Linked DNA regions of Homo sapiens. The protein of the gene in region 3 purifies or fractionates together with the protein of the main gene of each other region. This does not show direct contact. Each region holds a gene or a part of one and is shown on either strand. Other genes may lie near its edges. The genes, in order: UXS1, FASTKD2, DPEP1 and ALG6.

Region 1 (7,023 bases), on a different chromosome or scaffold from region 3:
AACTGTCCATACTTCCCAATTATATACACCCTCACTGTTAGCCAGCCTCCGTTGCAGAAATGCCCTCCCTGTTTCGGGAACAGAACTCAAGTTCTGTTAGCCTTTCTCCTTCTCCTCCTTACATCTTTCCCAAAGTCTTTGTTACCTACTCTGGCCCTGAGTCTCCTCCTTGATACCACATAACTCTTCTTCATGTCTTAGGGTTGACCACCTGCTAACTTGCATTGTACTTGAGTTCTTTCCCATTCATATGTTGGCTTTTTTTTCTCAATGAAATCCCGATTCTGAGGACAGGGATTGTGTCTTATGTGTTTCAGCCCTTGAAACATTTATAGCAGTGCTAATGGCTCATTGAAAGAACTCAGTTTCTGCCCTTTGTGCTGAATCAAAAATCAGGCCAACCTACTAGGTAGCTCCTGGGCAGACTGCTTGAATTACCTTTAACGTATTTTTTTTTAACATGCATATAGTGTAAAAAGTTAAATAGCTTCTGCAGGGCCAAACAGTATCCCCTGCCACCATTTCCCTCTCCCCAGAAGCAGGCACTTCATTTCTTTTTTTTTTTTTTTTGATACAGAGTTTCGCTTTTGTTGCCCAGGCTGGAGTGCAGTGGCGTGATTTCGGCTCACTGCAACCTTGGCCTCTTGGGTTCAAGCGATTCTCCTGCCTCAGCCTCCTGAGTAGCTGGGATTACAGGCATGCGCCACCACGCCCGGCTAATTTTGTATTTTTAGTAGAGACGGTTTCTCCATGTTGGTCAGGCTGGTCTCAAACTCCTGACCTCAGGTGATCTGCCTACCTCAGCCTCCCAAAGTGCTAGGATTGCAGGCGTGAGCCACCGCACCCAACCCCTAGGCATTTCACTTCTTTTAGTTGATTATTTTGGTATTTATCATTGTGCCATTGAATCACCTGGCTTCCTGATTTTTCAGTTGTAGATATTACCTAGTGACTTTGTTCTTTGGGAGATGATTTTTTTCTTCTCTTTGCCCCTGTACATGCTCTCCACCCTCCTATATAGATGTGGTATAATCTCACGGAGCTCATCATGCAGTGTTTACAAGCATGACTATGTAAATGCTGTTCCTAGTGAGTCATGTTGTAGGTTACTTTTTGTTTTCTCCAGCGAATAATTGGCTGGTGTTCTAATTTGCTTGCTTTCTATGTAGTATGACAGATCCAACTCCAAACTCTTTGCCAGTTGTCTGTCGCGTCTTCCCCCATGATGTTCATGAGCATCAGGATGCCCCTTGGTCAGCACCCCTTCCTGAAGAAGGGCCCCGGGGCCTTCTACTGCAACTTGTGGATACATCTGAGGGTCAGCTGCCAGCCTCACCACCTGCACCCACATCAGCCTGGACCTACCCACTGCAGGACTTCTGTTTCCTGACTTCCTCTTCCTGACTCCCTCTTGTTTCACTCCCTGGTTTGGATGTGATGGGAAGTGAATTCTGAGACTTTACCCATAAGTATATTTTCTGCCTTCATGTCTGATAGATTGATAGTGTAGAATTATAGAAAAAAAGTTCCTTTAGAATTTTTGAAGCATTGGTCCAATCCTTTTTGGCCTCCAGTATTGTTGAAGAATTTCAAGCCAGTCCTTCTCTTTCTGAAGATTGTAGCATCTTCCTTTCGGGTCTAGTTGTCAGTGCTCGCCACACATGTCCAGCCCCCTGTCCCCCAGGCTCTTGGTAGGATTGCCCTCCCTTCCTCACTCCCTGAGCTTGATGGCCTCACATGGTTGTTGTGCCAGTGGCCTGCCCAGGAGCTGAGCGGAAGTGCTACTTCCACTTCTGGGCCTGCACTTCGCTGCGAGTGTAAGTTGCTGCCAGAGTTTTCCTTCCCTCTAGTTAGGTTCTGAACTCAGCTTGACAATGATGATACTCAGCTTGCAGAACCCCCTCCCACCCATGCTATGACCCTGTTCGATTGAAATAAACTTGAAGAATAAATCTTGGTTGTTGTAGGCCTCTGAGGGCTTTTGGGCTGCTCATTGCTGTAGTTTAACAATGCCTGCCCTGACTGATACATCCGTGGTGTTCCAAGATCCACAGTGCTAGGCCTTGGTGTATTTTATCCAGCATGTTGGGCATTTTTTGTGCCCTGGCAATCCAGAAACACTTATTCTTCAGTTATGGGAATTTTCTTGAATTATTCTTTGGTGATTTTCTCCCCTCCCATTTTCTATTTCATCTCTTTCTGGGACTACTACTATTCTGATATAGGATTGCTGGACCAATCCTCTTATTTCCTATTTTCTACCATTTTAAGGTTGTTGCACTTTTGGGACGTCTCCTCATTTTTGTATTTAGACTCTTCTAGTGATTTTTTTACATTTTATTTTTGCCATACTTTTTCATGTATAAGAGTTCTTTTTTGTTCTGTGAACTTTTTTAAAAAACTAAAACATGGTCTTCATTTCATGGTATATTCTCTGGATTTTTAAAAAATTTGTTTTCTTTTCTCTTTACTGAAGGATCTCTTTCCTCTAGGCTGCCTTCCCGTTTCTGTGTGAGGCTCTCCTCAGATGGCCTGCCCATGTTTAAGAGTGGGGGACTCTGTAGGGATGGGCACTGCCTTCTGTGAGCTGAACCTTTCCTTGTTGGGGCCTTCTGACCTTAGTGCTGCGGGTTGGTCCTCCCGGGCTATTGTCACAAGACTCTCCCTGGTCCCTGCAGGAAGGGGAGGCTTGGCTGCCTGCATCCTGGAGCCCAGTGAGCGAGGGCTGTAGCCTAATCAGTAACCTGATTGTCCCAGGGGGATCTGGGCTCCTCTGTCAGAGACCCTGATTCCACCCTCTCCAGAGATGGAGCCACCTGTCTTCTGCCAGGGTGGGACAGGAGCTGGAACTTGTCCTGCTTCTTAGATGTCTTTGAAAATCAGACTTCCTGTCTCTGCTGCCTCCACACCCATTGCAGATGCTCCAGGCCTGGCCCAGTTCTTGACCCTAAGTATAAATGGGCCATTCCACTGCCCGCCCACGTCCGTGCCCTCTCCATGTCCCCATATTCACCTATCTTCTTTTTCCTATCCAGTAGCATTTTGGTGCCTGTTCTCCCTTCCCCTTCTCCCTGTCCACGTGGATTGATTCCTTAAACAAGAACAAAAAAGAAGTCAGGGAGGAGGGATATGGAGAGAGGGGCAGGGAGGAAAATAGATTGCCTATATTCAAAAAAAGAAAAGAAATCAAAGACAAAAGACATTTTCTGATGTTTTAGTCGGGTTTAGGAGCCATTATCTTTTCACCTTTAGCCTTTGAAAGTTAGAGTTAAGGCTGGTCGCGGTGGCTCATGCCTGTAATCCCAGCATTTTGGGAGGCCAAGGCAGGTGGATCACCTGAGATCGGGAGTTTGAGACCAGCCTGGCCAACATGGTGAAACCCCGTCTCTAGTAAAAATACAAAAAATTAGCTGGGCATGGTGGCGGGCGCCTGTAATCCCAGCAACTCAGGAGGCTGAGGCAGGAGAATCTCGTGAACCCGGAGGCGGAAATTGCAGTGGGCCAAGATCGTGCCATTGCACTCCAGCCTGGGCAACAAAAGCGAAACTCCATCTCAAAAAAAAAAAAAAAAGGAAATTACAGTTGTGACATTGTGACATCTAGTAACATTTATGTAATTTTTGGTGTATTGTGGATTTTGTTGTAGTGACATTTTAGTTGTGGTACCTTTCTTTCCTGTCAGTGTTACTTAACAAGAAAAGAGATAAAACCTGAAAACCATATGAAAGAGTGTTTTATGTGTCTTAGTTTTGTGTTTATGGTAATAGACTTCAAACTTCCCTGAGGTTGGGACTTTGGTTACGGTACAGTTTTGCCCTTAATATAATCAGCTCCCACATGATCGGCAATTGCCCTCATAAATTCATTCGGGACACAATTGTTAGCCTCTGCCTTGGAGGATGTGCAGCAAGTTAGATATCACTGTGACGCCAGAGGACCCTGGGGGACAGCAGACAGCTAAAATCCAACAACCTAGTACCGGTGGCATTCCCAGGCTGACCCGAGCGTGAGATCAGCTTGGGCTTGTCAAATGCAGGTTCCTAGGATCCTCCTAGGCCTGTAGGAGCCTGAGGGTTGGAGGCACAAGCTGGAAATTGTGAATTTTCAACATTTTCAAAATTTCCTTTCAGATTTTCTATCTTTTCTACTAAAAGAATATTTTAGTGAACACCCAAATACTCTCTGCCCAGATTCACCAGATGCCTACATTTTTTTCCACATTTTTCTTTTTCTTACTTTTTTTGTATATATTTTATATATACTTTTTTTGTTGAAATATTTGAAAGGTGCAGACGTAACAGTACTTCACCTTCAAGTACTTTACATATATCTCCTAAGAATAAAGGTATTCTTCTATATAATCTCATTACCATTATCACTCCCTAAAAATTAACAAAATAATATCTAAGATATAGTCTATATTTAAATTTCCCCCCATTGTACCATAAATGACTGTGATAGCCTTTCTGAGATTTTTTTTTTGCTTCTGTTTTTTTGAGACAGGGTTTCAATCTGTTGTCCATGCTGGAATGCAGTGGCATGATCTTAGTTCACTGCAGCCTCAAAATCCTGGACTCAGGTGATCCTCCTGCCTCAGGCTCCTGAGTAGCTGGGACTACAGGTGTGTGCCACCACAGCCAGCTAATTAAAAAATTTTTTTTTGTTTAGTTTAAAATCTAGGACCCAGTCAAGATTTACATGTTGCATTTGGTTTTATGCCTCTAAATTTCTGGAGCCATAGTAGCCTGATTTTTTTTTGTTTGTTTGATTGTTTCTCATAACATTTACCTATATATGTGTGTGTGTGTATATACATATTTACGTATATTCATGTATATGTGTGTGTGTGTGTGTGTATATATATATATATAAAAGCCCAGAGCAGTTTTCCTATAAATGTCCCACATTCTGGATTTGTCTGATTGTTTCCTTATGATTAAGTTCAGTTAAACATTTTTATAACAATGCTTGCTAATTGGTGTCGTTGGGAACATGTAGTGTCTGGGCTGGTCCCACTTGACACTGTTCAGTGTGACCCCTGGAAGGAATGGCCTCTATGCTGCTTCATTTTGAAGGTACATTTTTGCAGTATGCAATCTGTGGAGTGATTCTTGCCACCTGTGCGAATATCTTGTTCTCCAGCCAGTGCATTTCATGTCCATTGACGATCCTTGCCTGGACCGATTTTTCTGTTGGGGATTGCAGTTAGTGATTTTCTAATTTTGTAAATCTTTTGATAGTTATTAACTGGTGGTGTTTTGAAAAGAACTTTCCCTCCCTTTTTCTTCTCTCACTGTATTAGTTTCCCGTGGCTGCTGTAACAAATTACTCCAAATTAGGTGCCTTTGAAACAAGAGATATTTATTATTTCTAAATCTGGTGGCCAGAAGTCTGAAACCAAGGTGTTGGCAGGGCTGAGCTCCCTCGGAATGCTCCTCTGTGGCTCCAGGGTTTCTTGTCTTTTGCCTGCACTGCTCCAGCCTCTGCGGTGACATGGCCTCCTCCTTTTCTGTCTGCTAAATCTCTCCTGGGTGTTTCTTATAAGAACATTTGTCACTAGATTTAGAGCCCAACTGGATAATCCGGGATGATCTTTTTGTCTTGAGATCTTTAATTACAGCTAAAAAGACCTTTTTTCCAAGTAAGATAACAATCACAAATTCTAGGAATTGGAATGTGGACATATTTTAGGGGGCACCGTTAAACTCATGGTGATCTTTCTTTAATCACTGTGGACCCGTAGCTTCTTTTAGTCTTTGAGCACTTCCTTAATGTCTAGATGTTTCAGGCTCATTTTCTTTTTCTACCCCAAACCTGGAATCAGCCTTCTCTCCAAGGAGCCAGAATTGAATGGAATCATTGGCCACTTGCTTGGTGTCTAGAGAGTGGGAGAATTGGTTGGTAGTATGGGAAAAGCACACACACGTGGTATCAGAAGTGTTCTGTAGGTAGAAACAGGGTTTAAGACTTGGGCATCTTTATTTTCAACAATTTTCCCATTTTCCACCATAGTTCCTAAGAAAATGGACAAGGTAAAGTAGTCAAGGTAAAGTGCTGAGTACCATGAGAGAAATGAGATCTGGGACTTGGAGAGAATGGGATGCCCTTAAGACCTGGGGCATTGAGTTGGCATTTAGCAGAAGGATACAATTTGGGCAGTGGAGTTGAAGGTGAAAGTGATGGAATGAGCAGAGGCTGGAGTGACACAATGCCAGGAGCAGGAGTCTTTGTGGCCCATAAAGGCAGAATGTGGAAGTCTGACCTGACATAAACTTGATTTAATGACATGAGTAAGCCCTCCATAAGAATTTGTGCAGCATGAGAGAGATTTTGATGAACATGCCTGAAGTGTTCAGACATTAGGGCAGGGCAAAGTATAATCAGTTTTGCATTTTGGGGTTGGCCCGTGTGGCCTGAAATGTGCTTTGTGGTGTGCATGTCTCCTGAGCTGCCTACCTTTTGTAGATATGTGACTGGATTCTAGTCCTGGTATATGATATGTATGGTACTTCTGTACAGGCCAGTGCTGTGATCTGAATGTTTGTGTCCCCTGGAATTCACATGTTGGAACCTAATCCTTGAAGTGATGGCATTAAGAGGTGGGGTATTTGGGAGGTGATTAGGTCAGGAGGCAGAGCCCTCATGCATGGGATAGTGTCTTTGTAACAGAGGCCCAAGGGAGTTCATTCCTCCCTTCCACCATGTGAGGATACAGCAAGAAGGCACCGTCTGTGAATAGGAAGTGAGCCCTCACCGCCAGTGTCTTGATCTTGCACTTCCCAACCTTCATAACTGTGAGAAACAAATTCCTGTTTATTAGCCACCCACTGTGTAGTATATTTGTGATAGCAGCCTGAACATGGACTAAGACAGCTGAGAAGTCAAGAACATGTCTGATGTGAAGTTGGAGAGCTTTCACAAATAGATATGTTGAATAGGTGAGGCCAGTTACCAGATTCTTCATGTGTACTGAACCCACATTAATGTCTACTGCAAATTTCTTGTCTTGCTTTTTGTCTTACA
Region 2 (7,023 bases), on a different chromosome or scaffold from region 3:
TGGGGTGACATGTAAAACCAGCCAGCAGTATACACAGGTGTTCCTAGTGGGTCTTAATAACATTAAGTGTCTGTAACCCTGAGTGAAATTCTTTTTAAATTCTTTTTTCTTTTTTGAGACATGGTTTCACTCTGATATCCAGGTTGGAGTGCGGTGGCACAATCTTGGCCCACTGCAGCTTCGACCTCCTAGGCTCAGGCGATCCTCCCACCCCAGCTTTCTGAGTAGTTGGGACCACAGGTGCATGCCACCACACCCAGTTAATTTTTCTATTTTTTGTACAGGTGGGGTTTTGCCATGTTGCCAGGCTGGTCTCAAACTCCTGGGCTCAAACGATCCTTCTGCCTTGGCTTCCCAAAGTGCTGGGATTACAGGTGTGAGCCACTGTGCCCGGCCCTGAGGGAAATTCTTTAAAAGCAAAATTCACAAACTTTTAAAGCAAAGTATCCAATTTTTATTGATTCTATAACATATATATGTGCATATATTGTAGTATCTTTATCAATCAGGATTTACTTGCTGATAACAGAAACCACTGCAACCTAGTTTAGACACAATGTGCTTTTGTTAGTTTCTGGCCATGCACAGAAGCCTCCTGCTTACAAGATGAATGGAAAGGCTGAAGGAGCAGCCTTTAGTCTGACTTCCAGGAATGACTCTCAGAACACTATCACATAACTGGCTGTCCAGAAGAGATGCTATCTCTGCTTACAGCCTGGAAGCTGGAAAGTCATGAAGATGCTGCCCATTGCTGGCTCCAGAGCCACATTATTTTAGCCACAATCCCCACCAGCAAAATGGATGCTCCTCGTCCTGCCACACCACACCCTGGGGTCTCTGTTATTGCTCTTCTAGAAAAATAAAATGCTCTGTGGCTGTTTGTTGGCAGAAACATTACCTCTATCTCATTTGGCCTTCCCAGTTTCAAGTAGGTACATCTGCATAGAGGAAGCTAAGTCACATTTGGAATTCAAGCTGAAAGGGGCTCTGGGAAATGTAGGCTTCAGCTTTTTTTGGATCCACCAGTGAGTCACGGCACACCTGTGTGCACAAATGGGTTACAAGTGTGTTAAGAGATAGCCATCTTGGACCGGGGGTGGTGGCTCACGCCTATAATCCCAGCACTTTGGAAGGCCAAAGGCGGGCAGATCGCAAGGTCAGGAGATCGAGACCATCCTGGCTAACATGGTGAAACCCTGTTTCTGCTAAAAATACAAAAATTAGCCGGGCATGGAGGTGGGCACCTGTAGTCCCAGCTACTCGGGAGGCTGAGGCAGGAGAATGGCTTGAACCCAGGAGGCGGAGCTTGCAGTGAGCTGAGATCACGCCACAGCACTCCAGCCTGGGCGACAGACCACGACTCCGTCTCAGGAAAAAAAAAGAGATAGCCATCTCCTGCCTTCTGGGCAGCCACTGCCCTCCTGGCCAGGAAGCTCCACACCTAGGTCTCCCTACAAGTCAGCGCAAAACAGGGTGGAGTCTGATGGTCCACCTCTCAGGCCCTGTGAATGAAGAGTATGAGAGAGATCTGTCCTTTGCTGCCTGGCTGTGATGTGCTGTGTGAAGACAAGGCTGTGCCACGTCCCTCGCCAGCTACCTAAGTGGCTTGCTGCTGAGTGAGCCACTGACCATCATAACTGCTGGGTAATTTCATGGAAAAGTGCAGTCAGTTGGGATTTGAGGAATGCCAGCTCCTCATAGGTAGTTCCAAGTAGATGCCCCAAATCTCTATCTTACAGAAACTTCTATTTGCTTAGAGATGTCCAAGCCAGTTGCAGGGTGACTACCCTCACAACACATGACATTCTATAAATTGGAATGTCATTGTTATTTGGAAATACTTGATATGAATAGTTCAATTGCATTTGAGGTCCATGTGTATTATCACAAAAAAAATACCATCACATTTTGTCAATGACAAGAAGAGTTGTTAGGCTATGTATATATGAAATTTTCAATTTTTGAATGTTTTTTAAAAGTTCTAAACTGTTTAATCAGCTTTGTGTAAAGAAAGTTTCTATTCAGTGGTAACTACTGAGAATTCGGAGAGCTGGTAAATGTCTCAATCAAGAATTGAGCTGGGCACAGTAGCCTGTACCTATAATCAGTCCTATCTACTTGAGAAGCTGAGGCAGGAGGATCCCTTGAGCCCAGGAGTTTGAAGCTAGCCTGGGTAACATAGCAGGGCCCCATCTTTAAAAATCTAAAAATTAAAATTAAAAAATAATAAAAAAGAATTGCATGTAGCTATTTCAAGAATACAATTTTATATCTTGTATCTAGAGCAAGATCAACCTTTTCATTAGGGATTCTGAAAAAAATATTTGGATATCTCACACAAAATGAGCATTTAATATATTTCCTAATTTTTTTCTATGTGTGCCATAGATCAGTGGTTGTTTAGGGGACAGAGAAAAAAGCAAAGACAGGAACCTTTTAGAGGTGATAGATATATTCATTATCTTGATTGTGGTTTCACAGATGTGTGTGTGTGTGTATGTACGTCAAAACTGACCTAACGGTACACTTTAAATATATGCAGTTTACTGTATGTCAATTATACTATAATAAAGCTATTTTTTAAATTATGGGAGAAGAAAACCCCACAAAGTACATTCCAGAAAGGTATTAATTTACAGTCTACCAACAGCTTATGCAAGTGCTTGCCTCATTATACCTTCATCAGCACTGTAATTCTTAAAAGAAAAAAAACTGCTAATTTGAAAGGCAAAACCATCTCTTCTGTTTCAATGTGCATGTCTTTACAAGTAGACTGAACTTTTTTCATGTTCATCAGCTCTTTGCCCATTTTTCTTTCATTGACACAAAGCAATGAAGAATGCTAACACTAGAATGCTAGTAAAAGAGGGATGCCTTTTTATCTGCCAGGTTAACTAGTACAAACTGAAAATTACTACCCTAAAAGGTGGTCATAAATATTCACAAATTTGTCAAATCCTTTGAAGAGGAGTCATAATTAGACACTCAAAACTGATGCACACTCAACATTTAAAGACAAAACCTTAGTTCCTTTAATAACAGAATATCTGCATCTTGTTCTGAAGCTTATAAGGTTAAATCACTTGGCCAAGTATACAAAACTAGAGGTTGTCCAATCTGGAACCAGAAGCCTGATCTCCTGGGACACAAGCTGAAGAGCAGGTGAGGATGAAATGATGTGGAACCAATGGCATAGCTGAGACTTCAGGAAAGGAAAATTCTTTGAGCCTTATCTTCCTCGTCCATAAAATGAGGGAAGTAACAATTAAATAATCACTAAATTTCCTTTCAGCTCTAACCTTTTCTAAATGCAAGCTGGATAAATTGATACAACCTGGCAGCTGTTGTCATATTGCTATAGTTTTTGTATTTTTTTTTTTTTTTTTTTTTTTTTTTTTTTGAGACAGAGTCTCGCTCTGTGGTCAGGCTGGAGTGCAGCAGGACCATCTTGGCTCACTGCAATCTCCACCTCCCGGGTTCAAGCGATTCCCCTGCCTCAGCCTCCCCAGTAGCTGGGATTATAGGCATGCACCACCATGCCCGGCTAATTTTTTGTATTTTAGTAGAGATGGGGTTTCACCGTGTTGGCCAGGATTGTCTTGACCTCCTGACCTCATGATCAGCCCACCTCGGCCTCCCAAGTGCTGGGATGACAAGCACGAGCCACCGTGCCCAGCCCAGTTTTTGTATTTTCTTATAAGCCTATGTTAGCTCACATTCAAACTCCAGCCCTCCCCTACTCTGTGTAGCCTTGGGCAAATACCTATCCTGATTTTAGAGATGAGGAAGTGAAGACACAGAGAGAATCATAATAGCAGCTACACCTCAAAGGGTTCAGATCATGAAAAGGCAGCACACAAATGAATACTTAGCAGTGCCCGGCACATACTAAGATGTCTAGTAATTGCATGTCTGTGTGCTTGGGGGCAGAATAACACCAACTTGCATGGAACCCATGCTGTAAGTTCCACAAGAGACCATGCCTATTCATCACTATATCCCCAGCGAGCCAAATACTAGGTAGACAGGCATATTGAACAAAATAGTTGAATTTGGACAAATATTTGAACAAAGAATGAACACACATAATCGAAAAAATAGTCCTCAGGTCTGATTCACAACACAATTCAGCTATATATTTAATTTAAAAGACTTCATGAAATTGTGGGAGGGGTAAGGGGGAAAAAAGAAAGAGAAAGGAAGGACCCCAACAACAGTAAGACTCCTTACCATCTACATCTCATCTGTGTTTCTCTTATTATAACCCATGAAATATCTCTACCTGCAGTGCTTATTACAAATACAAATACCATCCTCACTCATTTTCAACAGCTACCTCACTAATTCTTACACACTTGACAACTTTAGAACTTTGTCCAATTATTATTTGGCCAATGCTTGAAAATGATTTAAAGGCATAACCCCAAGTCTTAGAACAGCTTAGAGCAGGAGTATAAATATTCAGATTCCAAAGACAAGGACTACTACCCACATCAACCTGCCTGTGACACCTCACAACTAAGAAACCAGTTTTTAGTAGATCAAAGATGAAAAGGTGAAACGTACAGCTCACAAATCAAATATCTGGGCACTAGAGGGAATAGGTGTGGTTGGAAAAATAACCCTTCTGGAATTTTCTCAGCATATTTTTAAATGGCAGTAACAACATTTCTTCCACTCCTAAAATTAATTTTAATAGTGAACTGAGGTAACATTTTTTGTCTTAGCAGATAGCTCAATTCCATTGACAACTGACTTGTCATCTTTATTAATTTTTACAAATGCATGTCTCCTAATATGAAAAGGTTGATTTTCACTTTATTGTGTGCTTTGCACATTTACAGCAGCAACAGGAAGAGCTTCTACTGAATAGATTTTAGTCTTCAAAAATGTGACTGCATCTTCCATCTCTAGTTTGTCCATCTCCCAGTTATTGACCTTACCAAAGAAAGAGGAAAATAATCAGTTTGTGAGACGATACTAACAAAAGAGCTAGTTTAGAGATCCAAACATAGTAAAGTAACATGAGGACAATAGCTTTTTGAAAGCAAATGTGACCTTATAACTACTCATATTTTAAAGGCATAATAAGACTACATGCTAGGGTTTAAGAAAGCTTTAACTGTGAAAATTATACAAATTTTAAAGGTCCTCTAAATGGTGCAAAAACTGCTTTCTTGAGAAAATCTTCCTTAGAATATATATAATCAGCAATATAAAAAACAAAGTCTTAAATAGTAGCCCACTAAGAGAAAGGAGTCATCTTAATCTCAATAGTCCACACGTAATCCATTTCCAATACTAAAGTATAATAATAGAAGACTTGGAATGTTTACATCTTACATTATGCGCAGGACCAAATGAGTGGCATTTAGATAGATTCCAACAGCAACATATATATAAATGTATTTGTAAGGTTCCTACTACCTAGAAACATCAGAAGAGGCTGTTCAAGAGAAGCTGTGGGGTACAAAATAAAATTGAAGCATAAGAGGGAAGAGAAAGACCCATCTTCTTAAAACCATCCAGCCTTTTCTGGCAACAAACATCCTGTAACAGCTTCACACAGGCCATGAAAACAAAGCTTTAACATCTTTCCTTCCCTTGTTCAAGATAACCTGGAAATTAAATATGGTTTTGTGTATCTTAAATATGAAAATATATTATTTGCATTCTTCTTCTTAGCAAAAAAGGATTAAAGCTGACCAGAACAACATTTGTAAAAGCTCTAGTAATGACAGTAATCAGCTGAGCAGAACCCAAATCGTGTACTAGCAATGTTCTTTTTCAAAGAAAACAGTAACTAAAGCACTCATTCCAATAATGCTGACAATTCCTCTAGTCCTAGTAACCAGTCTCAACCACAAGATTCCTGGCAGCTGTTAGAATGTACATCAGTAATTAAAGAATATTTCATTTGCATTTTTTTCTCACCAAGATCACATGAAAACCCATTGCATTCAAATGCCGCATTTTCATAGCAAGGAATCCTCTGGGGTGGCTTGAACCCAAACAATAAGCAGATCTGGAAACACATAGCACAGCTACTCTGAAAACAAAAATAAACAAAACAAGAACAGTTATTGATATTACTATTTAGTCTTGCTGCATTCTTGTTCTCTGGAGATTTCCAAGTTGAGCTCTCCACCGACCACAATCCTTGATATTCCTGTCTTAGTCCTTCACTTCTTTTACTTGGCCTCTGCAGATATTCCACTATACAAGGCTACTTTATAAATCAAAAATATACAACATTATACACAGTTACCTCTCAGTTCCCTTTAAGGATGGCTACATTTTTGAAGAGGAAAATTTTCAGACATGAAAGCACCAATTTTAAGGGTTTTCTGTGTAGTGCTGATTTCTGATCTGAGTATAATTATTTATTCTACCAGTAGTAGTAACGGTGTAAATAATACCAAATAGTAAATGCTCTTCTTACACATATCATCTCCCAGAGAAAGCAGCATTTAAAAAACAGAAATAGGAGTTTAAATACAAGAAAGAAAACACCAAGAGAAAGGCAAGACTGTTAAAATAAAATCTGTAAATATAACGAAAATGTGGAAGGTGTAATTTGTTTTTTCATTGTTCCTGGCACTTTGGAAATACTAAGTTTACTGGGAGAAAAAAAGAAAAAAAAAAGACATTTATATCCTTACTGCCTTCACCTATACTCTGGCTGTTATAAGACAAATTTTATGTTTTTAAAGGAATGCTCACATTCTTCACTTCTCATGACTTTATGCTGAGAACAACTGTTATTTTATTATGCCAGAATAGCGGAGTACCCGAAAAAGAAAACTGATCTTGGAATGAGGTCAGAGAGAAAGCCTCTTCTGAGGGGAGATGGGTAGCACTAATAGGAAAGACAGCGGTTGAAAAGATGGCCAAGAAATAAGCTAGATGCATTCAGAAAGAGGTGAAAGTCACAGAACTGTGTGTGAATGAAGAGGGATGGGCAGATAAGAGCTTGGATCCCTACAGATTTTTTTGTATGTTTCTATCATATTTATGTGTGTG
Region 3 (7,376 bases):
TGAATTCCTGATCACAAACTTCAAGGAACCTCTTTAAGCCACCCGGGAATCCTGCTGCAGGTCCCAGTGCCAGAACCAGAAGCATCTGTGCCATCTGGGAACATTCTGGTGGAGCAATCGCCCTGTCCTCGAGGTCGGCCATACACGCTGGGTCTTCACCACCCCGGGGATGCAGATGCCTCCTGGCGACCCCCTCCTCCATCCAAGGACCCCTCCCGGCACAGCCCCGAGCACACCCGCTGTCTCCCCTCCTTTCCGCCCGTCTGTCCGATCCTCTCACAGCTGGCTGGGCCATACTGCTCTGTGAAACTGTGCCCGGTCAGCCCCGGAGTGGGTGACCCAGGACCCGCTGGCTGTGTCCTTCCAGGGCACAGGTCCCAGCCTCTCCTGTTTCGTCGACACTGGCTACCTGTGTGGGCTTGTCTGTTTCTGGGCTCTGAGCCCTATCCCCACAGCACTGACTCCCCCACCCACCTGAACCCCCAGCCCAGCCCCCGAAGCCCCACGGACCCAGCCTCCTGCTGCGCACCCCAGCTGGAGTTCAGGGAGCATTTTAAATTCACTTTTTGTGTTTTTTTTTTGAGATGAAGTCTTGCTCTGTCACCCAGGCTGGAGTGCAGTGGTGTGATCTCAGCTCACTGAAACCTCTGCCTCCCAGGTTCAAGTAATTCTCCTGCCTGGGGACACGACACGTAGGGGACGCCTGAGCCCTGCGCCTTTGGGCCTCAGTATCTGTGAAATGGGCCTGTGAAAGGGGTGGACACTCAGAGGCCAGGGCGGGCCTTGGTGCTTGGTCTCCCTCCACACAGCCCACTCCTCTCCAATTCACACCCCACCAGCCGGCCAGGACCCCGGGGCCCCCGTGTTGACCGCCTGCCTGGCTGCTGCAGCTCCTGCCCTCTGGTGGCCAAATCCCAACGTGCCTCCGTGGGGCCGGTTCCCGGCTCCAGTTCACCGGGGCCTCGCGGGGTCCTGCAAGGCGGGGTCCTGGGGGCTCACTTCACCCAAGAACCAGCTGCTCCTCCCTCAGGGTGGGCTCTGCCTGTGGGCTCTGAAGACCTGGGAAGGCTGAGCAGGTGCTCGGAGCCACCACTGCTTCCATGGGTGTCCTGCCCTTTAACCCACGCCCTCACCCCTGAGAGCAAGGCTGCTGTTACCCCTGTCTCCTACTCTTGGAAACTGAGGTAGAGAAGACAGGTCCAGCCCCCTGGCTCATGGGAGATGGAGCCAGGATGTACGCACAGGACACAGGTCCAGAGACTCCAGAGCTGCGTGTAGACCAGCACCACTGCCCTGCCAGGCCCGCCTGCCCGCTCTGTACCCAGTGGGAGCTGGGAGCCTCAGCCCGACCTGTGAGGCCACCCCTCAGGGGCGGCTCTGAGAGGCCGCTTTGGGGCTCAGTGTCCGTCCACCGCAGCCTACGTCCCCCTGAAGCTGCAAGCAGGGACTGAGGGACCCTCCCCGTCTGCTCCTGGCCTCCGACTGGAGATTTGTCAAAGCTGACCTTTTGTCGACAAGGAGACTGAGGCCCAGCGGGAGGTATTTTAGAGACACTTCCACGTTTGGAGGCCCTAGATGCCCCCTTCCACCCATGACACCCACTGAGCTTCTCCATGGGGTCAGACGCCAATCAGCAAGAATTCGCCAAGAGATGTGGAGGCTACTAGACCCTCACCATGAAAATAGCTTGGCTGTGTAAGAGCCATTGGCCGAAGTAGGTTCTGCCCTTCGCTAGCCCAGCCGCAGCTCCAGACTCCAACTTCCGCCTGTGCCCAAGGCTTTCTCTCTAGCATGTCCTGTGATAACCCTGAAGCTCCCCGCACCCTACCCGGGGAGAAGATTTTTCTTTTATTTTTTTGGATACGGAGTCTCGCTCTGTCACTCAGGCTGGAGTGCAGTGGCACGATCTCAGCTCACCGCAACCTCCGCCTCCCGGGTTCACGCCATTCTCCTGCTTCAGCCTCCCGAGTAGCTGGGACTACAGGCGCCCGCCACCACGCCCGGCTAATTTTTTGTATTTTTTATTAGAGACGGGGTTTCACCGTGTTAGCCAGGATGGTCTCGATCTCCTGACCTCATGATCTGCCCACCTCGGCCTCCCACAGTGTGGGGATTACAGGCGTGAGCCACCGCGCCCGGCCACAGCTTTGATTTTCATTCAGCAAATCCTTTCCACCTGGAAGGAAATTGTGGGGCCGGACAACAGGCCCTGCTCTTAGCTGGGCGGGAAGGCAGATGACTGCGCAGAGAATTCCAGAACAGAGAGTAAGTCCGGGGACTCGGCGCTCCTCACACAGCCTCTGAGAACTCTTCCTGGAGGAAGGGGTACGTGAGCTGAGTCCCAAGGGTGCCTAGGACCGCACTGGGCGCCACAAGGAAGGAACAGCCGGCACAGTGGACAAGCGGGGTTGTGGGGCCTCTGGAGGGCCTGGCGGGTCCAGACCTCATCCTAGGGACCACGGGGAGGGCCAGTGGGAGGACAGCGGCGGGTCTGAGAGCAGCTCTCCCACCTCCTTGAGTCCCAGGAAGCCGCCGCGTCCCCTGCCCCACACACCTGGCCCCAGTTTCCTAGAATCCCAGGAAGCAGCCGCGTCCCCTGCCCCACACACCTGGCCCCAGTTTCCTAGAATCCCAGGAAGCAGCCGCGTCCCCTGCCCCACACACCTGGTGCCAGCCTCCTAGAATCCCAGGAAGCTGCCTCGTCCCCTGCCCCACACACCTGGTCCCAGCCTCCTAGAATCCCAGGAAGCCGCCCCGTCCCCTGCCGCACACACCTGGCCTCAGCCTCCTAGAATCCCAGGAAGCCGCCGCGTCCCCTGCCCCGCACGCCTGGTCCCAGCTTCCACCCACAGTGGTGCCCTGGGGTCCCCGGGCCTGCACCACCCCAGGTGGGCACCCCAGTACCCTGGCGCACCGACTCCCCAGCCCACTCACCCTGGCCTCTGCGATGCAGACTTGCTCCCTGGCAGGGCCCGGCCTAGGCAGCTCCCACGCCAGGCTCACAGCTGGGCTGGCCCTACCCGGCCACCTGCTGCCCCTCCCAGGCCCCTCCTCAGGAAGGTGAAACTGCCCCATTTCCTGCAGGAACCCTGTGTTCTCTGAAAGTAGAAAGAGGAGGGAAATGGAGGAGGGGAGGGGAAGGTTGGAGAGAAAGGGCCAGGGGTCGGAAGGAAGGGCTGCAGGAGGGAGAGAGGAGGAGGGAGAGAGGAGGAGGGAACTTTGCTCCAGGAGATGGCTCTGCGTCCTGACCTCCCCCAAGGCTAGAAACTTCTCCAGCAGCTTCCTCATTTCCTGAGAGTGCCCTGAGATGTCCTGGCAGTGTTTTTCCCTCATGTGTGGATGTGCCACCTCCCAGCCAGGGGGGTGCGTGCACAGCTGTGCTGTCCAGCTCTGTGATGTCAGATCTTAGAGAATGCTACACATCAGTACACATAAGCCATCTGTGTCCTTTTTCTCATGCATTTTCGTTGTGAAAATACAACATGTATACCAACAAGACATATAGGTGTTGGGAGGGAAACTGAGGCAGGGCTTGCATGATGTCCTTTGGAATGTGTCTAGACTTGCTGGCTCCTTCCTTCTAGCCCTCCTAGGCCCCTATTCCCATTATCTCAAGTAGCAGAACATGCTCCATATAAATGCTAAACCGGCACAGCTGTAATCATGTGCTTAATGCAACGTGGTCTTTTGACCTCCATATTCTCACCATCTGTTTCTTTGTTGCATTACCAATAAATACCGTGGGCTCCCAGAGCTCGGGCTTTTGCAGCCTCCACAATAGCGATGGCCCCCTGGTGTGCCACCTTTCTCTCTCTGTGTTTTTCTGAATCCTTTGACTCCGCCGGACTTTGTCACCCCCACGACCTGGGGTTGGGTCTGATCACCCCAACATATAGGTACTGTACCTTTACACAGAAACTACACAGGTGTTCGTAGCAGGACAATTTAGTATAGCCAAAATGTGGGAAGAGTGCAGATGCCCAACACGGGGACAGATAAATGTGTCTCTTCACGCAGTGGAGTATTACTCAGCCATGAAGAAGAGTGACGTGCTGACACGTGCTATAACATGAAGAACCTCAGAAACATTTCGCTAAGTGGCAGAAGCCAGATAGTCGGGTGTGGTGGTGCGCACCTGTGGTCTCTGCTGTGAGGCTGAGGCAGGAGGAGCGCCTGAGCCTGGGAGACTGAGGTTACAGTGAGCTGCGATCACGCCATTGCACTTCAGCCTGGGCCGCAGAGTGGGAGCCTGTCTCAGAAAAGAAAGAAAGAAGCTAGACTCAAAAGACCACATGTCGTGTGATTCCACTTATATGAAATGTCCAGAATAAGTGACTCCATAGACACAGAAGGTGGATTCATGGTTGTTGAGGCTGTGAAGGAAAGTGGGGAGTGGGTGCTAATGGGAATGGGTTTCTATTTGGGGCAATGACTTTTTTTTTTTTTTTTTTGAGACAGAGTCTTGCTCTGTCGCCCAGGCTGGAGTGCAGTGGCGCGATCTCAGCTCGCTGCAACCTCCACCTCCTGGCTTCACGCCATTCTCCTGCCTCAGCCTCCCGAGTAGCTGGGACTACAGGCGCCCGCCACCACGCCCGGCTAATTTTTTGTATTTCTTTTTTAGTAGAGACGGGGTTTCACCGTGTTAGCCAGGATGGTCTCGATCTCCTGACCTCGTGATCCGCCCGCCTCGGCCTCCCAGTGTGATACCCAACCTTGTTTTAACCTAAGTGACCTTCTCGTAGCAGAGAGAGCGCCGGACAGACTCCATTTTAGTTTCTTCACCTGCAGCCCCCTTCACCTCCCTCCCTTAAGGCTTAACTAGTGTGACTGACTCAAAGCACGTCTGGGAATGCACCTACTGATAAGATACTGAGGCAAGCTGCACCAGCAGCTCCTCGGGACGCGCTCGGTGGATGGCACCCGAAGCCCCTGCATTTATCTCTTTGTGATAGTTTAAGCCCCTGCACCTGGAGCTGTTTATTTTTTGTAACTGCATTTGTAACCAATTAATTTTTTAACTTTTTGCCAGTTCTGCTTCTATAAAAATTGCTTCAGTTAAACTCCCCCCCCCCATTTAGACCACGGTATACAAACAAAGCTAGCCCCTTCCTCAGGGCCGAGAGAATTTTGAGCATTAGCGGCCTCTCGGTCGCAGGCTAATAAAGGACTCCTTAATTTGTCTCAAAGTGTGGTGTTTCTCTATAACTCGCTTGGTTACAACACCAAAGTGCTGGGATTACAGGCGTGAGCCCCTGTGCCCTGCGAGGGCAATGAAAATTTTTAAATTAAAAATCTGGAATTAAATAGTAGTGATGGCTGTGCGACTCTGAATATTCTAAAAACATTCAATTGTGCACACTAAAGGGATGGATTTTATGGTGTGTGAATTGTCTCAATAAAGCTTCTATAAAAATATAAGTACAGTTATCCAGGCACGGTGGCTCATGCCTGTGATCCCAGCACTTTGGGAGGCCGAGGTGGGCGGATCACTTGAAGTCGGGAGTTTGAAACCAGCCTGGGCAACGTGGTGAAACCCCATCTCTACTAAAAATGCAAAATTTAGCCAGACGTGGTGACATGCGCCTGCAGTCCCATCTACTTAGGAAGCTGAGGCAGGAGAAGTGTTTGAACCCAGGAGGTGTAGGTTGCAGTGAGCTGAGATCGTGCCACTGCCCTCCAGCCTTGGCAACAGAGTGAGTCTCTGTCTCAAAATAAACAAATACATAAAAATAAAAAAAATTATGGGCCAGGCACGGTGGCTCACGCCTGTAATACCAGCACTTTGGGAGGCCGAGGCGGGTGGATCACCTAAGGTCAGCAGTTCAAGACCAGCCTGGCCAACATGGTGAAACCCTGTCTCTACTAAAAATACAAAAAATAGCCGGGCGTGGTGACGGGCGCCTGTAGTCCCAGCTACTCGGGAGGCTGAGGCAGGAGAATCGCTTGAACCCAGGAGGTGAAGGTTGCAGTGAGCCGAGATCGTGCCTCTGCACTCCAGCCTGGGCGACAGAGCGAGTCTCCATCTCAAAAAAAAAAAAAAAAAAAGAACCTGAAAATAATGAAAGATCTGATGAGAGTTCATTATAAAAACAACACACAATGAATTCTGGTTGTTTTTGTGACACACGACGTATTAAATAACAACTGAAATCATGAACAGTAACAGAGGCGAACAGATCGGATAACAAGGGCATTGACAAATTTTTAGGACATTTATATAATTTCTGAAATAGCAACATTTTAACTATATAAATATAATGTATGGAAAGTTAAGTGTCTTTTGACAATGCTTCCCATGTAATTGAATATATCAAATAAACTGAATTAGTTTAACATCTCCCTTTTAACAAGGTGGTAGAACAAATCCTTTGAAACTGTCAGTTTCAAAGATTTGACAGTTTCAAAGGATTTGAGTTTTGAGATTTTCCAGGGACCTTCTAGAAAACTTCAAAGTCCGTTTGAGGTCAAGAAGATTTAATTTAGAATTTGATTCTGATTTTGGGAAGTTGGCAAAGATGTCAAAAGATCTGAAAACTTAAATAAAATAGGATCATATGTCATCGTGAAACAATATTTCGTTATCTGTTTAACCAAAGTGACAATAAAGATTTCAAAGGTAAATAAAGGTGATAACATAAGACAATAAACCAACACATGTATAAGAGGGAAAGAGTGTGAACCTCCAGGGCCCATCTGGAGGATAATGGTTAAAAAAAACCATGGGTTGGACACAGTGGCTCACGTCTGTAAGCCCAGCACGTTCCCATTTGTGTTTTGTTTTGTTTTGCTTTTTAAACAGAGTCTCGCCCTGTCACCCAGCCTGGAGTGCAGTGGTGTGATGTCGGCTCACTGCAACCTCCACCTCCTGGGTTCAAGCCGTTCTCTGCCTGAGCCTCCCGAGTAGCTGGGATAATAGGCATGAGCCACCAAACCTGGCTAATTTTTGTATTTTTAGTAGACACGGGGTTTCACCATATTGGCCAGGCTGTGGTTTTTTTTGTTTTTTTGTTTTTTTAAGACGGAGTCTCACTCTGTCGCCCAGGCTGGAGTGCAGTGGCGCCATCTCAGCTCACTGCAAGCTCCGCCTGCCGGGTTCACACCATTCTCTCGCCTCAGCCTCCCGAGTAGCTGGGACTACAGGAGTGAGCCACTGCGCCCGGCCAGCCAGGCCGGTCTTAAACTCTTGACCTCAAGTGATCCGCCCGCCTCGGCCTCCCAAAGTGCTGGGATTACAGGCATGAGTCACTGCGCCCGGCTGCATCTCTGTTTTAAATAAATTTATAAACTAATAAAATAAACATGGCTGGGCAGGTGGCTCACGCCTGTAATCCAGCACTTTGGGAGGCCGAGGCGGATTACATGGGTTGATTACATGA
Region 4 (7,699 bases), on a different chromosome or scaffold from region 3:
ATTTTAAGTTCCTTATTCCCTAGTCCTTTAGTTGGGAATATACATCAAAAGGTGGATCTCCCTATTAAATGGGACTCAATACATCTAAAGATATAGTAAAGATTTACTCTCACAAGGGAATATTTCTGAGAAAAGAAAAACAACACATATGTAGATAATGACACAGTCAATTCTATTTAGAACACATTCACCTACAGGTAAATATAAAACCACAACCGTAGACAAAGGCATGATTTATCTTTGGTACAGCGAGAAAGAGGAATCTTGTCTTTGTATTTAGTTTGGGAAAGTCTTCCAATAAACAATTTATCTAGTTTGGTTTTTACTTTTCTTCCAAAATATACTTGCATTAACCACACCAACTTTCCATCTTAGAGAAATGAGCCTTTTTAAGAATCATTAAGAATAATCCCAAATCGTGAGAAAAAAATACAAAAGCAGTAAAACTCAATTAACCACTTACTTTTTTTTTTTTTTTACAGTTTTCCTTAGGTTGGGGTTTTAAAGTAAGAAGCAAATTGATGCCGGTTGCGGTGGCTCACGCCTGTAATCCCAGCACTTTGGGAAGCCGAGGTGGGCAGATCACCTGAGGTCAGGAGTTCAAGACCAGCCTGACCAACATGGTGAAACCCCATCTCTACTAAAAATACAAAATTAGCCAGGTATGGTGGCGCTCGCCTGTGATCCCAGCTATTTGGAAGGCTGAGGCAGGAGAATCGCTTCAACCCAGGAGGTGAAGGTTGCAGTGAGCCGAGATCGCACCATTGCACTCCAGCCTGGGCAACAAGAGCGAAACTCCATCTCAAACAAAAAAAAATAAAAAGCAAATCGACAAAATTGACATTTTCCTCTTCTCTTTGAAAAATGTTGGACCATTTTAACCACAGGATACACTTTAAATATATTCAGAAAATATAATAAATCAACTAAAAAATTTAGGGCAAAATTGGTACATTCCACCTAATGATCTAAAATTATTTTATTTTATTTGTTTTTTTTTCTTTTTTTTTGAGATGGAGCTTTGCTCTTGTTGCCCAGGCTGGAGTACAATGGCACAATATCGGCTCACCGCAACCTCTGCCTCCTGGGTTCAAGCGATTGTCTTCCCTCAGCCTCCCAGGTAGTTGGGATTACAGGCACCCACCACCACGCCTGGCTAATTTTTGTATTGTTAGTAGAGACGGGGTTTCACCAGATTGGCCAGGCTGATCTTGAACTCCTGACCTCAGGTGATCCACCCTCCTTGGTCTCCCAAAGTGCTGGGATTACAGGCGTGAGCCACTGCACCCGGCCCTAATTATTTTCTTATTTAAAATAAAAACATCACGGGATAACTCCAGAACTGATTGGAATGGCTAATCTTTTGTCATTGATGCCAAATCTCAAATCATCCCCTCAGAAAGATCATCCCTGACTATCCTACTAAAGCTTCCTCCCCTTACTGTTTGTATCATTACCTTCAATTTGCTTCCTAATTCTTTTCACTAACAGGATTTGTATTTTCACATGACATGGTGCAATCTCACACACATAATTTTCAGTATAAATGCTGGACACCAAAGAATACATATCATATGGTTCCATGAAAGGTTCATAAATAGGCAAAACTAATCTATGGTGTTAAAAATCAGGAAAGAGGTTACCTTTGGGGAGGAAAGAAGGGATGGTGGTTGGGAGGGGTGCCCAGAGAGGTGTTCTGAAATGCTGTGAATCTTCCTTCTTGATTTGAGTAGTGGTTAGGAAATGTGTTGACTTTAGGATAAATTAACAAGTTACAACTTATAATTTGCGTACAGTATTTTTCTATATGGTATATTCCAATTTAAAAAGCATAAAAGGGGCTGGGCGCAGTGGTTCACCCCTGTAATCCCAGCACTTTGGGAGGCCGAGGCAGGTGGATCACCTGAGGTCAGGAGTTCGAGACCAGCCTGGTCAACATGGTGAAACCCCATCTCTACTAAAAATACAAAAATTAGCTGGGCGTGGTGGTGCGTTCCTGTAATCCCAGCTACTCGTGAGGCTGAGGCAGGAAAATCGCTCGAACCCGGGAGGCAGAGGTTGCAGTGAGCCAAGATCGTGCCACTGCACTCCAGCCTGGGCGACAGAGCAAGACTCTGTCTCAATTAAAAAAAAAAAAAGTGTAAAAGGAAATTACTTGGATGTGTTGACTAAAGGCTCCCTGTGAGCAGGGATCCTCCTGTCTTAGTCGTTGCTCTCTGTTCCCCACTTGTAGAACAGTGTTAGCAGAAGGCAGGTACCCAAGAAGTATTTGCTGAATGGAGCTGTGTGCGTCTGTGTGTACGAAGCGGGGAGGTACCCTAATTTTACTGAGCCCTGTGTGGTTAAAGATATTATGCGAGGCTTTTAACGACTCTCTTCTGCTTAAACCAGAAAAAGGGTTATTTGCGACTTTTTCCACCTGTAAATCAGAAAACAGTAATTTTCTAACCCATCCACTGGCCACGAAGTTGCTAGGCAGGCAGTAGATGCGCTTTTCGTCCTCCTTTGCCCTGACGGTGCATCTCGACAAATGCCAAGCCCGCCGTCCCCATCCCAGAACCGACTTTGCTCCTTTTAGTCTGAAAGGTCCTTCCACCGCAGTGGACACAACACCGGGGAGTGCAGCTATCCCGGGCGTGTATATGGGGCGAAAGGGATCCCTTCTCGCGTTTCTCCGCCCCTCCTCTTGAGGGCCAGGCCCTCAGAACCGCAAGGACAAGGGTGCCAGGACCGCCCCAGCCTGCAAGTGCCACCACTATCACCGCGTCCCCTCACCCGACCCACAAGCGACCCTGCAGGAAGGGCTGGGGAGGCCTCGCGTCGCGTCCCTGGGAGTGGAGCGGAGCTGGGAGACGGGTCGCCAGCTCTGCGCCGGCTCGTGGCGCGTCCGAGCCCCCGGCACCTCCCCACACTGGCCTGGGGTCCGGAACCTCCGGGATCCCATGCTCTTACCCCGCCGCCCGCCGGCCGCTGGGATTCGCGCCTGCCGTGGGTCCCAGGAAGGCGCATGCGCGCTCGCCCCCGCGGCGGACTGCCCCTCCGGCCTTCCGCCTCCGTGTGCCCGCGCACCACCCGCGCGCCCGGTGCGGGAGCGAGCCCGTCGAGCGTGAGGGGAGGGGCGGGCAACCTGGCCTGGACAGGAGGCGGCCGGCTTAGGAGGCGGGGCAAGAGCCGATGGAACCCGAGAGGTCCCCAGCCCCGGGTTAGGCTAGGGGCAGGTGGAAAGCCCCTTGCTCTTCTTTCCTGGGATCGTGGCCAAGGCCGGAGCGGCTGCTTAGCCAACGGATTCCTGTCAGGGGCGGGCCCTGGCTTGCTGCACTGAGCAGAGAGCCTTGGCCGGTCCTCACCACCTCTGGGCCTGTGCCCTCGAGGAGCCAGAAAGCCAACCTGCTTCACTTTCTTCTAGCCACATGCCTGCGAAGAAGAAGACTGGGCAGCCCCCTAAAGTAAGAAACATTGAACATCCAACCATTTGCGAGAGCCTGTGCGTTGTGCAAAAGGACAGCCCTGCCCTCGAGTAGCCACTACACGTGCCCCAGCGGGCAGCTTGAATCACCTGGTCCCAAACTTGCCAAAAATACCTATCTAGTAAGTTAGTAAGACCTGCACACTTTTCCTTTTGCATTGATCCCTTCCTTTCCAGTTCCACTATTTCCATCTCAGTCTAGGCTTCTGTCCAATCACGCATGGACGGCTGTGATGATTTTTACTTGCCTTCCTTTGTTCAGAGAGTGCCCTCATTCCCCACTTCTGAATCTTGCCATTCTACGTAAGCCAACCCCTATAATTTGTAAGTGTTAGCAAATATTTGGCTAGGACTATGGCTTTCTACTGAGTCTGAATAACTTCTCTCTGGGCCTCAGTTTCTTCAACTGTGAAAGAAATCAGTAGGGCTAGGTGAACTTCCAGGTCTAAAATATGATTATATCTAAAAGACCATCAGCACTGGGAATATGGAGAAATATGGCAGGTCCCTGCCCTCAAGGCATTTAATTCTCATTGGAAAGACATTTTTATGCATAAAAGGATAAAAAGCTATAGAAGGAAACACATACTAAATGTTACATTACTTACATATGCACTAAGCACTGTAGGAGTTAGGAGAAGAGGGTTCACTGTAAACTGCAAACCATCAGGAAATGCTTTTCCTGGAGGAGTCAGCTGAGCTTTGAAGGAAAGCCTGGCTGGATAAGCCCAGAGAATGAGAGTAAGAATCTAGACAAAGGAAATGGTTCAAGCCAAATATTGTGGCAGCTGAAAAGTGTAGAACATTTCCTCTAGTTTAGGTGGTGGGTGATGAAGCTGGAAAGGACTGGTAATTGTAGAGAGCCTTGAATACCAGGCTATGGTGTCTGGAATGTATCCAGTGATCAGTAAGGGGCTATTAAATGACTTTTAGCAGGGAGTCAAGTATACAGTACAGTTACAGTGTTAGAGAAAACTTAAAGTGGTGAAAATGGATCAGATGAATCAGAGGGAGACTATAGCAGTCCACGCATGATTAGACAAGGGCTTGGACTGAGATGGCAATAGTGGAACTGCAAAGGGAGAGATCAATGCAAGAAGAAACATGTACAGGTCTTTTTTTTTTTTTTCTGAGACGCAGTTTCGCTCTTGTTCTCTTGTTGCCCAGGCTGGGGAGCAATGGCACGATCTCGGCTCACCACAACCTCCACCTCCCGGGTTCAAGCAATTCTCCTGCCTCAGCCTCCCGAGTAGCTGGGATTACAGGCATGCACCACCACACCTGGCTAATTTTGTATGTTTAGTAGACATAGGGTTTCTCTGTGTTGGTCAGGCTAGTCTCGAACTCCTGACCTCAGGTGATCTGCCTGCCTCGGCCTCCCAAAGTGCTGGGATTACAGGCGTGAGCTGCTGCACCTGGCCTCGTGTACAGGTCTTAATAGCATACTAGATATGTACAAGTGAAACAAAGGAGAGGGAAGAATCAAGGATGGCTCCCAAGGTTTCAAGTGTGCATTACAGTTCCCAAGAACTGATAGATCTTGGGAAGCCTGGAGAATAATCTGGCTTGGAGGGAAAGATGGTTCATTGTATTGAGTTCACGGTAACATAAAGACAAGAAAGTTGTAATACTCAGGTGTCAGTTATGAATCAGAGCCCAGGAAAGAAATTGGGGTGAAGATAGAGAGATGAAAGTGTTTCATTTGCTGAATAATGATGGAGACAGTATAGAGAGAAAATAAACAACCATACTTGAATAAATGCATTATCTCAGGCCAAAAGGAGAAAGGCACATTGGTGAAGGATGTTACATGGTTACAAATGTAGGGAGAAATCCATTACATTGCAGGATCATAAATATTAAGCATCTGGTGAACAAGAACCATGTTTGGCAGACCAAAAATCATACTTTATTGAATCTAAAGTTCCACCACTTGTAAAAAGCACCATTATTTTATGTACCACTGAGGAAGAAAACAATGCTACCATTTAAGCTAGTAATTACTGTAAAACATATAATTTCAGAAATATTAATATGTAAAAAGTATACATCTTAAAGTGATGGAAGTTGGTATCAATCTCTCCTTCCTGTTTCTCAACCCAACAGCTTCTGACCCAGTATTTAACAAAAAGTTAATGCTCAAAATGTTCATGAATAAATAGCGGAAGAGACATCACAGTCACTAACTCATAGCTGAATTGTCTCACCACTGCCATCTATATACCTTCTCCTGCTCTTTACCTTCAATAGGTATCATCTTTCACATGTGAATATCCAGTGCCTTTACATAACAGATGTTCAGAAAATGCATTTTGAATGATAGCATTTACTATAAGCAAAAAGGATAAGCCATAGCAAAATTGTAAAGCAGATCAAGTTTAGAGGCAGTGTAGAAAGGTGATTAAGAACTAGTCTCTGACTCTGAAAACAAACAGGTTTGGATTTAAATCTTAGTTCTTCTACTTTCTAGCTGTGTGAACTTGGTAAAGTCTCCTAATGTCTCTGGCATAATTACTTCACCTACAAAAAAAAAAGAATTAATAATAATGTCATCTTCTTTGAATTTTAATGAGAGTAAAATGAAATCATGCATATAAAACTTGAATATACTGCCTGGCATATAGTATGCAATCAATAAATAATAGCTATTATCATTTGTCTTTAACATGTGCTCACTTTTTCATAGCCTTTCTTTGAAGTGTCTTCTTCCTCCTACCATATAGCAGCCCATACATATATATATTTGCATCCCCACCAGAAGCCTACTGTTCTTATCTGAAAATTTTCTCTGAAACCACGACCAGACACAGTATCTCACAGCTGTAATCCCAGCACTTTGGGAGGCTGAGGCAGGCAGATCCTTTGAGCCCAGGAGTTGAAGACCAGACTGAGCAACATGGCGAAACCCTGTCTCTACAAAAAGTATATAAAAATTAGCCAGGTGTGGTGGTGTGCTTATGTAGTCCCAGCTACTCAGGAGGTTGAGATGGGAGGATCACTTGAGCCCAGGGAGGTTGAGGCTGCAGTGAACCATGATTGCACCAATGCACTCTAGCCTGAGTGACAGAGCACAACCCTGTCTCAAAAAAATAAAAAAAAATTATCTGAAATCAAATTACACTAATGTATAATCCATCTTAAAAGTTGTTGGCTGGGCGCAATGGCTCACGTCTGTAATCCCAGCACTTTGGGAGGCCAAGGCGGGTGGATCACGAGGTCAGGAGATCGAGACCATCCCGGTTAACACAGTGAAACCCCGTCTGTACTAAAAATACAAAAAAAAAATTAGCCGGGCATGGTGGTGGGCGCCTGTAGTCCCAACTACTCGGGAGGCTGAGGCAGGAGAATGGCGTGAACCCGGGAGGAGGAGCTTGCAGTGAACCGAGATCGCGCCACTGCACTCCAGCCTGGGCAACACAGCAAGACTCCGTCTCAAAAAAAAAAAAAAAAGTTGTTGTTGCCCAGGCCCGCTGGCTCACGGCTGCAATCCCAGCACTTTGGGAGGCCGAGGCAGGCACATCACAAGGTCAGGAGATACGGTGAAACCCCATCGCTTCTAAAAATACAAAAAAAATTAGCCGGGCGTGGTGGTGGGTGCCTGTAGTCTCAGCTACTCGAGAGGCTGAGGCAGGAGAATGGTGTGAACCCGGGAGGCGGAGCTTGCAGTGAGCCGAGATCGCACCACTGCACTCCAGCCTGGGCGACAGAGCGAGACTCCATTGGGAAAAAAAAAGAAAAAAAAAGTTGGTGCATTTTAAAGGCAGATGGGAAAGAATATGAAATGAATACTATTAATCTCTAAAGTCAGTTTGACTAATAGGTGATGGCTTCAATTATCTACTGCTGTGTAACAAATTACTCCAAAATTTAGCGGCTTATATAGCAATGATTTTATTTGCTCATGTTTCTATGGATCAAGAATCTAGGCAGGGTTCAGGTAGGTGGTTCATCTGTTCCACTGGGATTGTCTGAGGTCACTCATGAGGCTGCATTCAGCTGGGAGATCAGCTCAGGCTGAAACATCCGTGAACAGCTTCAGCCCTCTCTCCACAGGGCTTCTCTCTTCAGAAAGTTTCGCAAACTTTTTACACGGCAGCTCACTTCCCAGAGAGAGCATTCCAAGCGGCAAAGGCAAAAGTTGCAGATCTCTTACACCCCAGCCTTACAAGTCACACAGCAACCTAGCCATGATACAAGGAGAGTGGAAATAGATTCTGCCTCTCAGTGGGAAGG

The links.
Region 1: the proteins of DPEP1 (region 3) and UXS1 purify together in Homo sapiens (affinity purification with mass spectrometry; 2 studies listed by BioGRID and IntAct, with this or other methods). This does not show direct contact.
Region 2: the proteins of DPEP1 (region 3) and FASTKD2 purify together in Homo sapiens (affinity purification with mass spectrometry; 2 studies listed by BioGRID and IntAct, with this or other methods). This does not show direct contact.
Region 4: the proteins of DPEP1 (region 3) and ALG6 purify together in Homo sapiens (affinity purification with mass spectrometry; 2 studies listed by BioGRID and IntAct, with this or other methods). This does not show direct contact.

Annotation. Positions count from the first base shown.
Region 1 is NC_000002.12:106,184,291-106,191,313, reverse strand, and holds part of UXS1 (UDP-glucuronic acid decarboxylase 1), read left to right. Parts: intron 1-7,023. UniProt on the Homo sapiens protein: Catalyzes the NAD-dependent decarboxylation of UDP-glucuronic acid to UDP-xylose. Necessary for the biosynthesis of the core tetrasaccharide in glycosaminoglycan biosynthesis.
Region 2 is NC_000002.12:206,789,598-206,796,620, reverse strand, and holds the end of FASTKD2 (FAST kinase domain-containing protein 2, mitochondrial), read right to left. Parts: intron 6,050-7,023; coding exon 5,935-6,049; intron 4,939-5,934; coding exon 4,819-4,938; 3' UTR 432-4,818; downstream 1-431. UniProt on the Homo sapiens protein: Plays an important role in assembly of the mitochondrial large ribosomal subunit.
Region 3 is NC_000016.10:89,609,278-89,616,653, reverse strand, and holds the start of DPEP1 (dipeptidase 1 isoform a precursor), read right to left. Parts: upstream 3,013-7,376; 5' UTR 2,935-3,012; intron 1-2,934. UniProt on the Homo sapiens protein: Hydrolyzes a wide range of dipeptides including the conversion of leukotriene D4 to leukotriene E4. Hydrolyzes cystinyl-bis-glycine (cys-bis-gly) formed during glutathione degradation.
Region 4 is NC_000001.11:63,362,941-63,370,639, reverse strand, and holds the start of ALG6 (dolichyl pyrophosphate Man9GlcNAc2 alpha-1,3-glucosyltransferase), read right to left. Parts: upstream 3,014-7,699; 5' UTR 2,953-3,013; intron 1-2,952.